Regions from separate parts of the Homo sapiens genome. Here region 2 is linked to region 1. A link means that fine-mapping ties the variant in region 1 to the plasma level of a protein whose gene starts in the linked region. Region 1 holds a variant in brackets. A gene starts in the other region. All regions are shown on their forward strands.

What was found. A credible set is the group of variants that fine-mapping cannot tell apart. PIP is the posterior inclusion probability: the model's chance that the variant is causal. The UK Biobank Pharma Proteomics Project read protein levels with antibody pairs (Olink). The fine-mapping took linkage between variants from a reference panel, not from the people measured, so its PIPs are less certain.
Region 2: LAMB1 starts here. The variant in region 1 is the best candidate, but not a certain one, in a credible set for the plasma level of the LAMB1 protein (UK Biobank, PIP 0.52).

Annotation. Positions count from the first base shown.
Region 1 is chr15:36,986,449-36,991,784 of GRCh38, forward strand. All of the region lies in intron 8 of MEIS2 (Meis homeobox 2), which reads right to left. Among named protein-coding and RNA genes, the nearest start is that of MIR8063, 16 kb to the left of the region's middle. The variant CT/C (reference allele first, on the strand shown) is at 4,193.
Region 2 is chr7:108,000,183-108,005,525 of GRCh38, forward strand. LAMB1 (laminin subunit beta 1) reads right to left here and starts at 2,979. Exons shown (of 34, transcript NM_002291.3): 1 at 2,929-2,979; 2 at 2,667-2,789; 3 at 1,376-1,551. The coding sequence starts at 2,703. RefSeq lists an enhancer at 817-1,417.

The sequences.
Region 1 (5,336 bases):
TTAATGTTCCACCCACATTGCCTCAGCAATGGTACTTTACTCTGGCAGCTACACAGTTGGTTCCGGCTTCCAGCTTCCTTCAGTGCTCCCAGAGTCAACTTCATTACTCTCACGGGTATCACAAGTAGTCTGGCAGTTCTCTCCTCAGAGATCTGAGGCCCAGCTCCTGAGGTATCAATCCCAGCACTAGCTGGGTGGCTTCCTTTCTCAGAGGACCGAGTCCCAACTCCACAAGGCTCCTCCTCTGGCCTTCTAGGATCTGCTGACCCCCACCTTTTCCTTTTGTCCTCTCAGCCCTAGAGAAGGTAACGGCTTTCAAAAGCGTTATCTTGTTTCCATTGTGTTCTGTTTTGCTTTTTAAGATTACTAATGTCCCTTTCACCAAATGCCTATGTTGAATGCTCTCTGTGAAAATAACTAGTGTGATTTCTGTTTTCTGACTGGACTGTAACTATTACACAGGATGCTTTCACAAAATATCTGTGAGCATAAACATTTCAGGAAGCCAGGCCAAGGGGTGTGTGGAAGGTATGCTTGGAGATATGCTTGATGATGGTAAAGTGTGTACCCCAAGATTTAGATAAGAAAATAAAACTTTCTGGACTACAGTACTGCCAGATCACTCAGTGTGGGGTGGGGTGTGTGTGGTAGAGAGTACACACAAGGAAATGGGAGATGGTCAGGTGCCACGGCTCACAGCTATAATCCCAGAACTTTGGGAGGCCAAGGCGGGTGGATCACTCAAATCCAGGAGTTTGAGATGAGCCTGGGCAACATGGCAAAACCCTGTCTCTACAAAAAGTACAAAAATTAGCCAGGCTTGGTGGTACATGCCTGTAGTCGCAGCTACTTGGGAGGCTAAGGCAAGAGGATCATTTGAACCTGGTATGCAGAGGTTGCAGTGAGCCAAGATTGTGCCTCTGCACTCCAGTGTGGGCAACGGAGCAAGACCCTGTCTCAAAAAAAAAAAAAAAAAAAAAAATTGTAGATTTCAAAGGTAAACTTCTAAAACTTAGAAATTTTACCTGCAGCAAGCCCTTCTTGGGGTGAAATGACACTGGTTGTAAACTTTTCAAAGGGAAGTCAGAATCAGGTTGGAGTTCTTAAGAAGAGCAGTGTCTTTCATGGGCTGGGGTGAAATTATGATAAAATGAACTGGCTAAATAAATGGTCACTGAAAATGAGACCAACTCTATCATAAGACACTTAATAACATCATAACACTTTGATGGCAAAGAAAAGGCATGTCAGCTGAGGGGCTGAAAGTCCCTTAGTTCCTTTTCTGTTCACAGGGATCATCTTCATCTGATCTAAATGAATCTCAGCTATGACCAGTTTTTTTTTTTTTTAAACACTTGATTCAGTCACCAAACTGACCACTGGGATTAAATCAAAGAAGACGTAACACTCAGTTTCAATGTTGAGAATACTGTTTGCATTGAACATCAGATCTATACAAAATTTTGGTTCAGCTCTTTTACAATTTTTGATAGGTATAATATTTTACTTTAGAAATGCTCATTCATGTCACTGGAACAACATTTTAGACTCTTAAAAATGCCACAGAGTTGCAGTTATGCAGGATGAAAAAGTCTAGAGATCTAATGAGGACTATAGTTAATCATGTTGGATTGTATACTGGAAATTTGCCAGGAGTAGATTTGAGGTTCTCTTACCACAAAAACAAAGCAAAAATAAGAAAAGAAAGGCAACTATATGAGATGATGGATATAACAATTTGCTTGACTGCACTAATCACTATATATATGTGTATCAAAACATCATGTCATATACCTTGTATATAATAAAGCTTTTTTTAAAGGCCAAATACTTATTATTATCCAAATGAGTCACATCAGATTCTTTTTTGAGGGGAGGAAACTTTATCCTTTGGGGAACCCCAAATCAGTATGTTTTCCTTGTTTATCTATTTCTTAATTGTATTCCAAATACGAGTTCAGAGACAATGAATGTTAGCTGACATTCCTGTCACTTGGCTTGATAAACCCTTCAGACAGCAAAAATATTGTTATTTCTTACAAGGGTCCTCTCTAGACAATTGCTATGACTTTACTTGTTATAATAGATAACAGTCCTGAGGAAAATAGTTTGCCTTGGCCCAGGATAGAATACCTTAAGGCACACTGCATAAGTCATTACATAGTGGATTTGTAGAAAGAAGGAAAAGATTTATTAAAGCAGAAATTTACAATAAATACCCATTAGCTATGGAAATATCTTAAAACAATAACCATCAACCATTCTTTCATAGGAAGATAACTCTTTTCTGTCTCTTCAATTCAATGAGATGTTCAAGATTTGGCAGTTCCCCCAAACAATAATTTGCATTCATCTAAGAATTTCTGAAGCATTTTAAGAGGGTTAATTCATTATCTTTTATAATATAACCAAAACTTACTTATTACTAGATCATCTTATCCCTTCTGCATGGAACAAGACACGAAAGTAACATACAGAGGAAAATCTTGCATTAAGAAATGAAAAAAGGCTAGCAAGAAAAAAGGATGGGGTCCTGTTTTGTAGATATTGAGATCCACCAGTGATTACAAAGACAGCCAGCTTCTATAAACACATCTTTAATTAATCCTTTAACTGTCAGACTTCAAAACACCACCATTAAAATAATATTTCTTCTTATCTTCAGTGCTTGACATTTCCTTCATTTGCTGACTCATTAACCATCAGAAAACATGCTAAACACAAAGAGTCATGTTCTTTGAGAGTTAACAAGTCAGGACAGAACTAGAGAGGTTAAGTGACCAGTTAGACAATTTGGAGGAAGAACCAAACTAAAGCTCATGGTTTTCCTGTAAATTTTCAGCCCAGTGGGATTTCTGCTTGCACTGCCACTGCCCAGCTGCCACCTTATCATGCAAGTGACCTAACTCTGTCATTTATATGCTCATGACAGTATTCGCGTTTGAAAATACAAGAGGTTTAGGTTTGGTGTAGGTTCGGCTTGGGAGGGTAGTAATATTTGCCTTCAGGACTTCTTCTTTCAGCTTCAATTCCCTTGCATACTCGTGTGGACTTCTAGTCACACAGGGTCAGCTCGGACTACAACTGCCTTAGGCCCAGATATGGTCTCTGCCCAAGGTTCCTTTACTTCTCCCAAGCCATCAAAACTCTTCCCTGAGATCTTCTCTTTGAAAATGAATGTTAACATTGGTCCAATCACATAAATATAGCTACTATTACAACTCTAGCAGTGATACTGCACTTCTATTACTACGGGCTAACTCATGTTTACAGAACTATGTGCCACATTTCACATAATGGAATAGCTTAATTGTTGGTTTACCAGCACTTATTTGGCAGTTGCCAGATGTTTGTTGACCATTACATGACAGTTGTTTCTGTAGTGTAAGTACAGTGTAGCAACATGCCAGCTTACTTGTTGGTAGTCCCCATTAGGCTGTAGGTCACTTGAAGTGGGGGCATTGTATCTTCATTTGGAAGCAGTTTTGTTTGTTTGTTTGTTTGTTTGTTTTTTGAGACAGAGTCTCACTCTGTCGCCCAGGCTGGAGTGCAGTGGCACAATCTCGGCTAACTGCAAGCTCCGCCTCCCGGGTTCATGCCATTCTCCTGCCTCAGCCTCCCAAGTAGCTGGGACTACAGGCGCCCGCCACCACGCCCAGCTAAATTTTTTGTATTTTTAGTAGAGACAGGGTTTCACCATGTTAGCCAGGATGGTCTTGATCTCCTGACCTCGTGACCCGCCCACCTCGGCCTCCCAAAGTGCTGGGATTACAGGCATGAGCCACCGCGCCCGGCCTGGAAGCAGTTATTTTTGTACACACTCCCCAAAGAAAACAGTTTGATTTAAAGTTTAAATGTATTGATTCAATGAGTAAGTGAATCCACACTTTGTTGAATCTGCAGAAAAAAAAAAAACTTTGTCTAATATTAAATCAGCCAATAGAGCTAGTGTGGAAATTATAAATTTGTTACTATTAAAATAAATGATAATTTTGAGTGACTAAGCTGTGAATGGAGTCTCTTGTTCACTTAAATCATTTTCAAAGTACTTCCTTTTGGCATATCTGGAAACATTTTATTTGAAATTATTATTTTGGTTTGAATTTTTACCTATCAAAAGAACTAGTCAAAAAAGAAAGATGAAAGAAGGCACTAAGTATATACAGTTTATTGGTATAGTTTAGTGGGCTTT[CT/C]TTTTTTTTTACAGCTTTAAGATGTAATTCACATAACATACAATGGACCAATTTAAAGTGCACGATTTGATGTACTTAAGTATATTGTAGATTTTAAAAAGAAGCAAAAACTTAACATTTTTAGTACAATAATTTCAAGTGTGAGTGCCAGAAAGGGGGATAGGGCTTTTCAGGAAAAAAAAAAGACTGATATTGAGAGCTATTAGATAAATTTTCTTCTGAGGGAGGATTTGAACCTCTGAAAATCTAGGAAATGTAAATCCAAAATGTGCTAAACACAAGACTATTAGGCTTTTTCCTGAAATGAATAAATGAATGTGAGCTTTTGCCTCTTTATTTTCTGTGAGTCAAGGGCATGTATAACTATTTTTCAGCTTTACCTCATGAAAGCTCTGAGCTTTCCCTTCATGTTAAAATATATTATTTAACATTTGAGTATGTCAACACCACATTAGGCACTTTAAAGTACAGAATTAGCCATGCTTCCTACTCAGGGGACTTGTCTACTAAGCATCAGACTAAAGCAAAATGCTCTAGAATTCCCTCACATCAAGCAATCCATAGAGTGATATTTTCCCTTAATTCTTCTGTAAAATCAATGAGATTTTTCTCTCTTTTTTTTTTTTGTGCAAACTCAAAGGAACACTCTTTGATTTAACATATACCTTTAGAAGTTCTGTTTGGCACATTCCACATCTTATTCTTTTATCATGGGACAGAATCAGTGACTACATCTAAAATTAGGCCTATTAAATGTGGTTTCTGTCACAAAGCAAAAGGAGTTCCCATTTTCACTAATTCTGTCATCACCTACATTATTGTAGGTGGGATATTTAAACAAATGAGAGCTTATTTCTCTCATGCATCTTCATAGGGTACACTAACTTAATAAGGTTGATGGTATAATGCAGTGAGAGAGCCTGAAGAAAATAAATACAAAATGCTTTGATCTAGGCATACTTTTGCAGTGTAAAAATAGTTGGAAGTAAAATTTTTAATTATGCTATAGTCTAGGATGCTTTGTGAGCATTAGAAATATAAGGCAAGTACAAAGTATTAACTCTTAAAGCTATCAGGCTACACTCTTTAATCTAAGATGATTAAAAGTACATATTAAAGTGTTAATTTTCTTTTTTTTTTTCT
Region 2 (5,343 bases), not on the chromosome of region 1:
ACAATCACCAGAACTCAAAAAAAAAAAAAGTTTAAAAAAGTTTAATTACAGCCTCCCTTCTAATCAGGAGGAAGCAGTCTAGACATCTCTGTATAAACCTGGAAGCAAATGAACGGAATCCACTTTACCACATTCCTTTGGTCTAATTGATCAGGTCTCCAGAATGGGCTTTCTGCTTTGTAAAAGTGACTCCATTTTAAGGGATCTGCTGTGCAAACCACACACAATACTCTGTCCTCCTTCTGAAGGGCAATTGTACAGGTGGGTGGGCTGACCATGTTCTGAGCAATTAGCTTGGAACTTGCCCCGAATGTGAAACTGATACTTTCTGCTTTTGTTAGAGGCCAGAAATATCAGCCTTTATTTAAAAAAATTTTTTGAGACAGGGTCTCCCTTTGTTGATCAAGCTGGAATGCAGTGGACTGATTATCGCTTACTGCAGCCTCGACCTACTGGGCTCAAGTGATCCTCCCACCTCAGCCTCCCAGACAGCTGGGACCACAGGTGTGGACCACCACGCCCAGCTAAGTTTTAAAAATTTTTTGTAGAGACTGAGTCTATGTTGTCCAGGCTGGTCTTGAACACTTGGGCTCCAGTGATCCTCCCACCTCAGCCTCCCTAAGTGCTGGGATTACAGGCATGGAGCCATTTTGCTCCCGGCCAGCCTCCTTTTTAAAAATGAAGGAAAAGTATTCTGATTCTGAATATTTTACACTTTGTGTCTTCTTTTAAAATTACTTTTGACTTTGTATAAATATGACCCCTGAAATCTAAAATTTGGGCCCTCTTTTAGAAACAGGTAACACCCTGAAATTTCACTGTGGTCTTCCTGTATCAGGGTACCATGGCAACCAGGGCATTTCGTAAAAGCAAGCATCTGATCCTGATATCTAGTTGGGAACAGCACCAAATGAGGAGAGGAAAACGGGTTCGTTCAGTGATTGGAATCACCTTGCAAGACGCCTGTCATTGCTGGAATCCTCTTTACCCAAGTGAAGATGCGGTAGAGGGGGGTGGGGAAACCCAAGGGTTTTAAAAAGAGGATAAATCACCTTTAATGCACACTTCCAAAACTAAAGTTTTAAAAAACACACACACAATCAGGCCTTTTGGAGGCTCTGGGTCAGGGCAGCCAGGGCTGTCGGCAGTCCTGCCTTTCCATACTCACCGCGCCGGCAGGAAATGTGTGGCGGATGCAACTGTGCAAACTGAGATGGGGCGAAAGGTTGAGCTACAAGCCTAATCCCGGGACTCCCCGGCTGGCTGCGCTTCCTATCTGGATTGCTGGAAGGATGCGGAGTCCCCAGGGCCTGCCCCTTAGGTCTGGACGGGAGGAGGCGCTAGCAGAGCCTCGAACCCCGCTCTCAGCCCTCACCTGCAAGTGGCTGACGATACAGTAGGGTTCGGGCTTGTGCAGCCCGCACGTCGAGGTCACCGAAAGCTTCTGTGCTCGGCCGATGAGAAGGTCGCCCGTGGCGGGATAGCAGCTGCCTTCTGCGCAGCCGTAGCTGAACTCGGGTTCCTGAGCGCGCACTCGGGCTCTGCACAGGGCTGCGGGAAGGACAGGCAACAGAGTTGGGGGGACACAAGCAGGGAGTGGAGCCCGAAAAAAACGAACAAGCGGGGGCGGGGGAGTGGGTGCGGAGAGAGGACAGTCCATTCGGAAGAAAGCAAAATGCACAGAAAAGACAATGGAGAGATGAGCGCAGGAGAGGCTGGGAAGGCAGGGACTCCGAAAGGAGAAGGACACGGAAAGAAACCCACACACGTCATCAGGTCTGTCCAGCAGCGAGAGCCTCCCTCCCGGGAAACCCACCGACGCTCGCGCCCACCCTGATCAGCCCCGGGGAGCAGCTCCCCCAACAAAGGGTGGATGTGTAGACCCTCCACTTCGACGTGTCCGGAGCCCGGCGCAGGGAGGCTGACCCCCAAAGGGCCACACACCCACGCACGTGAACCCGCGTGCACGCGGCAGCCCGCGCATCCTCGGTGTGAGTGTGCGCGTGGAGATCTGTGAGCTTGGGAAGCGAGAGTGCGTGTGCGTGCACGCGCGAGGGTCACCGGCGCTTCGCTGGGGACGAGGCGCCGGGGCTCGCGGTGGACGCCGCTTTCCGGAGCTAGGGGAGCCCATGGACAGTCCCTGGGGCTCTGGAGTGGTTTCAAGGCTTCTCCATTCCAGGGAAGCGCCAGGTCCTGCTGTTTCTGGTGCCATCCGGAGACAAACAGAGATGGTTAATTAAAGCCACATGGCCCCCATCTGTTCCCAGAATGAAGCCTCCGCTCAGCTCAGGCACTCTCCTGGGCAATGGATTTTTGGAGAGCCCTCCTCGGTCAGCACCGCCAACCCCAGGGAACCTGCCCTCTGCGGTGGGGAAACCCAGGGTGAACCGGCCGAGGGTGCAAAACCCTGAGCGGGGGCCGCGGGAGGCCGCAGGGGCCGGGGCTTGGGCGCAGAGCCCGGGGGATGAGGGTCCGCGGCGCTCCGCGTGCGCTGTCTCCAGCCACCACCGAAGCAAGGGCGGTGGCGTTTAATCCCAGGGGCGTCATTTCCATCCAGTCCCTCTCCCAAGCCCCCAGGATCCCACGAAGGTGAGCAAGCAGCTTTTGGGTTTTCCTTCCCCATGCCCAAGTCCGTCCGCCTCCCCGCACCGTTTCCACGGAATTACCTAAGAAACTGAAAGCTAGCAACTGGAGAAGCCCCATGCCGGCTCCCTGCAGCCACGGGGACGCGGCAGAGGAGTGGAGAAGACGCCCGCCGAGCCGCCTGCCCTTTCTTCCCGTCTTCCTTTCTGGAGAGGTGGAAAGGAGGGGAAAAAAGGCAAATGTTCAAAGAGAGAAGAGGCGCCCTTCCATTTCCTGTCGCTCCCACGGAAGCGGGGGGTGGGCTGGAAAGTGGGGAAAATCGTGCAGCCACTTTGTTCTCCTCACCCGGCGACGCGAGCTCTCGCCCTGCTCCGGGAGCCCCCGAGCCCAAAGAAGGGAATTAGAAAGTTTAGCCTTGGGAGGAACAGAGGGAGGCGCCTCTGCTCATGCGCATACGGAGAGCCGGGGCTGAAGGGGCGGGCGGCCGCAACTCTGCGAGGACCGGGTGAGGTCCCGGTCCCACCCCCCGGGGCGCCTCTTTTGTTTGAAAGCCGAATCTGCGATCGCTGCGGGGCTGGGGCGCTTCCAGGTCCCAGGGCGGGTCCGCCCCGGGGTGCGCGTCCCAGAACGGCGCGCGGCGGGGCCGTCCAGCGAGGGGGGCGGATGCGTGGGGGCGTCTCCGAGGTGGGTTTTCAGGTTGCCCAGCCAGGGGGCCGGCGGGACCTACCGCGGACTCGCGCATTTACGTTCGCAAGAAGTGAATCACCAAACGTGCCCACGGCTAAAACTCTCGTGCGGTGCGCTCGGGGAAGGCGGGTTAACCCTTTAGAAACAGGGTCGACCTGTCGTGTTTGTTCTTTAGAAAGTGACACTTCCTCTCCGCCCCTAGTATCCAAGAGCTTGGGATGGGCGCGACATCTACAGTGTCTTCCTAGGAAGGAGGAGAAGCTCTGTGCGCCCTGCAATTCTTTGCGCACACATTTATTCAGGACCTATCTGTAATCCCTGTTACCCAGGTGGTCACGGCATTGAATTGAACGTCCAGTTCTGTTTTTAAAAAATCTACTTCCAACATGGTGCAACTCCATCTCTACTAAAAATACAAAAATTAGCTGGGCGTGGTGGCGGGCGCCTGTAATCCCAGCTACTCGGGAGGCCGAGGCACGAAAATCGCTTGAACCTGGGAGAAGGAGGTTGCCGTGAACCGGGATCGTGCCATTGCACTCCAGCCTGGGCAACAAGAGCAAAACTACGTCTCAAAAAAAAAAAAAAATCTTCCTACCTATATCCAGATGATGGCTTTAGCTCAGGTAATTCCTCAAATGACACTATTATTGTTACTGACTCCGTTTCCCATCTCGCCGTGGAAGAGTTGACACAGCCAGGAAGTGGAAATCTCTCATGAGAGGCACTTCCCCACAACGCTCATCTCGACGATTCTCCATGGTGTGCAAATGCTGAGGTGGGGAGAGGGCCTCTAATGAAGGGTCTCTAACAACACAGTGTAACCTGCCTGGTGAAATTAGGGGTACATAGAAACTCACCACCTTCTAGGGGTTGGAGAGGGAAAAGAGGTTGGTGACGGGACCCCACCACCCATTCTGCTACCCTTAGCAATGGACAGAGTCAAAGCTTGGAGTCCTGCTCTGGGCAAATGTGGCTGGAATTCAGGGAGTATAGTTAGTTGTCAGTCCAGTCAGGAGACTTGGCTTGTTTTCCAGTCATTTCCGGGAGAAGAGTTTAAGCGGCTAGCTGGTCAGTTTTTAACTTAGCTGTAACGAAATAAGGCCCAGAGAAGTTTAATCATTAGACCATAGAGTCAGCTGCTTTACGAGTTCGTAAGCCTGCACGAGTCTGAGGCAGGCGGGAGCCTTGGGGTCTAGGTGAGTGAGGCATTAATTATTCACCAAATCAGCACTTGCCCTGCTACAGCCTGGGGAGGTTTTGCCTCTGCTGAGGCTTAGGATCCTCTGCGCCGGCTGGGTAGCCTGAAAGCGCTGAGAAAGTCCTTGCTGTTGGGAGGCTGTAGAATTGCAATGGAGGGTCTTCAGGGCTTAATTAAAAGAAAAATATTAAAAGGCAAATGTCTTTTCTTCCTGTTGAGCTTTTAATACCCTGGGCCAGAGTTTCGTATTTTCATGTGCACACACTGCAAGCATCTTTCAGCTCCTTTTCTTTCTTGAGCCTAACCTCTGCTCTCACAGCAGCTGAGCCCTCCTTGCTACCTGTCCCTGCTCAGCGTCCTCTCCCCTTGCAAAAGGTCATTTACTTTCAGCACTGTTCAGAAGCCTACCTGCTCTCCTGATCACCTCACTTGCAGTAGTAAATTGAACACTACTGAGAAAATTAGGTTTTTAAAAATTTGCCTGTATATGTGCAGGGGGAGGAGTGTGTGTAACACTCACCTTCTGACCACTTCATCTATGAATTTGCCTACCTCCCTTCCCACCTGTATCTTTTGTGCTTCTCTCCTAGAAGTGTGCCCTCCTCTCATCTACTAAGTTCAGTGCTCTCATATACTTGCTCAGCCTCCTCCTGTTTTAAGTAAAAACAACACAAACTCTACATTGTATGGAATCAAAGCTTGAGCTCTGGAGATTTGCTCATGGAATCAAAGATTGAGCTAAGGAGAAAAGAGTTTCAAGAGGGAGATCTTGAAGCATAAGCCACAGAGATCAAATAAGATCACAATGGGAAAATGTCCATTGCATTCAGCAATTAGAAAGCCAAGGGTGGCCAGGCATGGTGGCTCATGCCTGT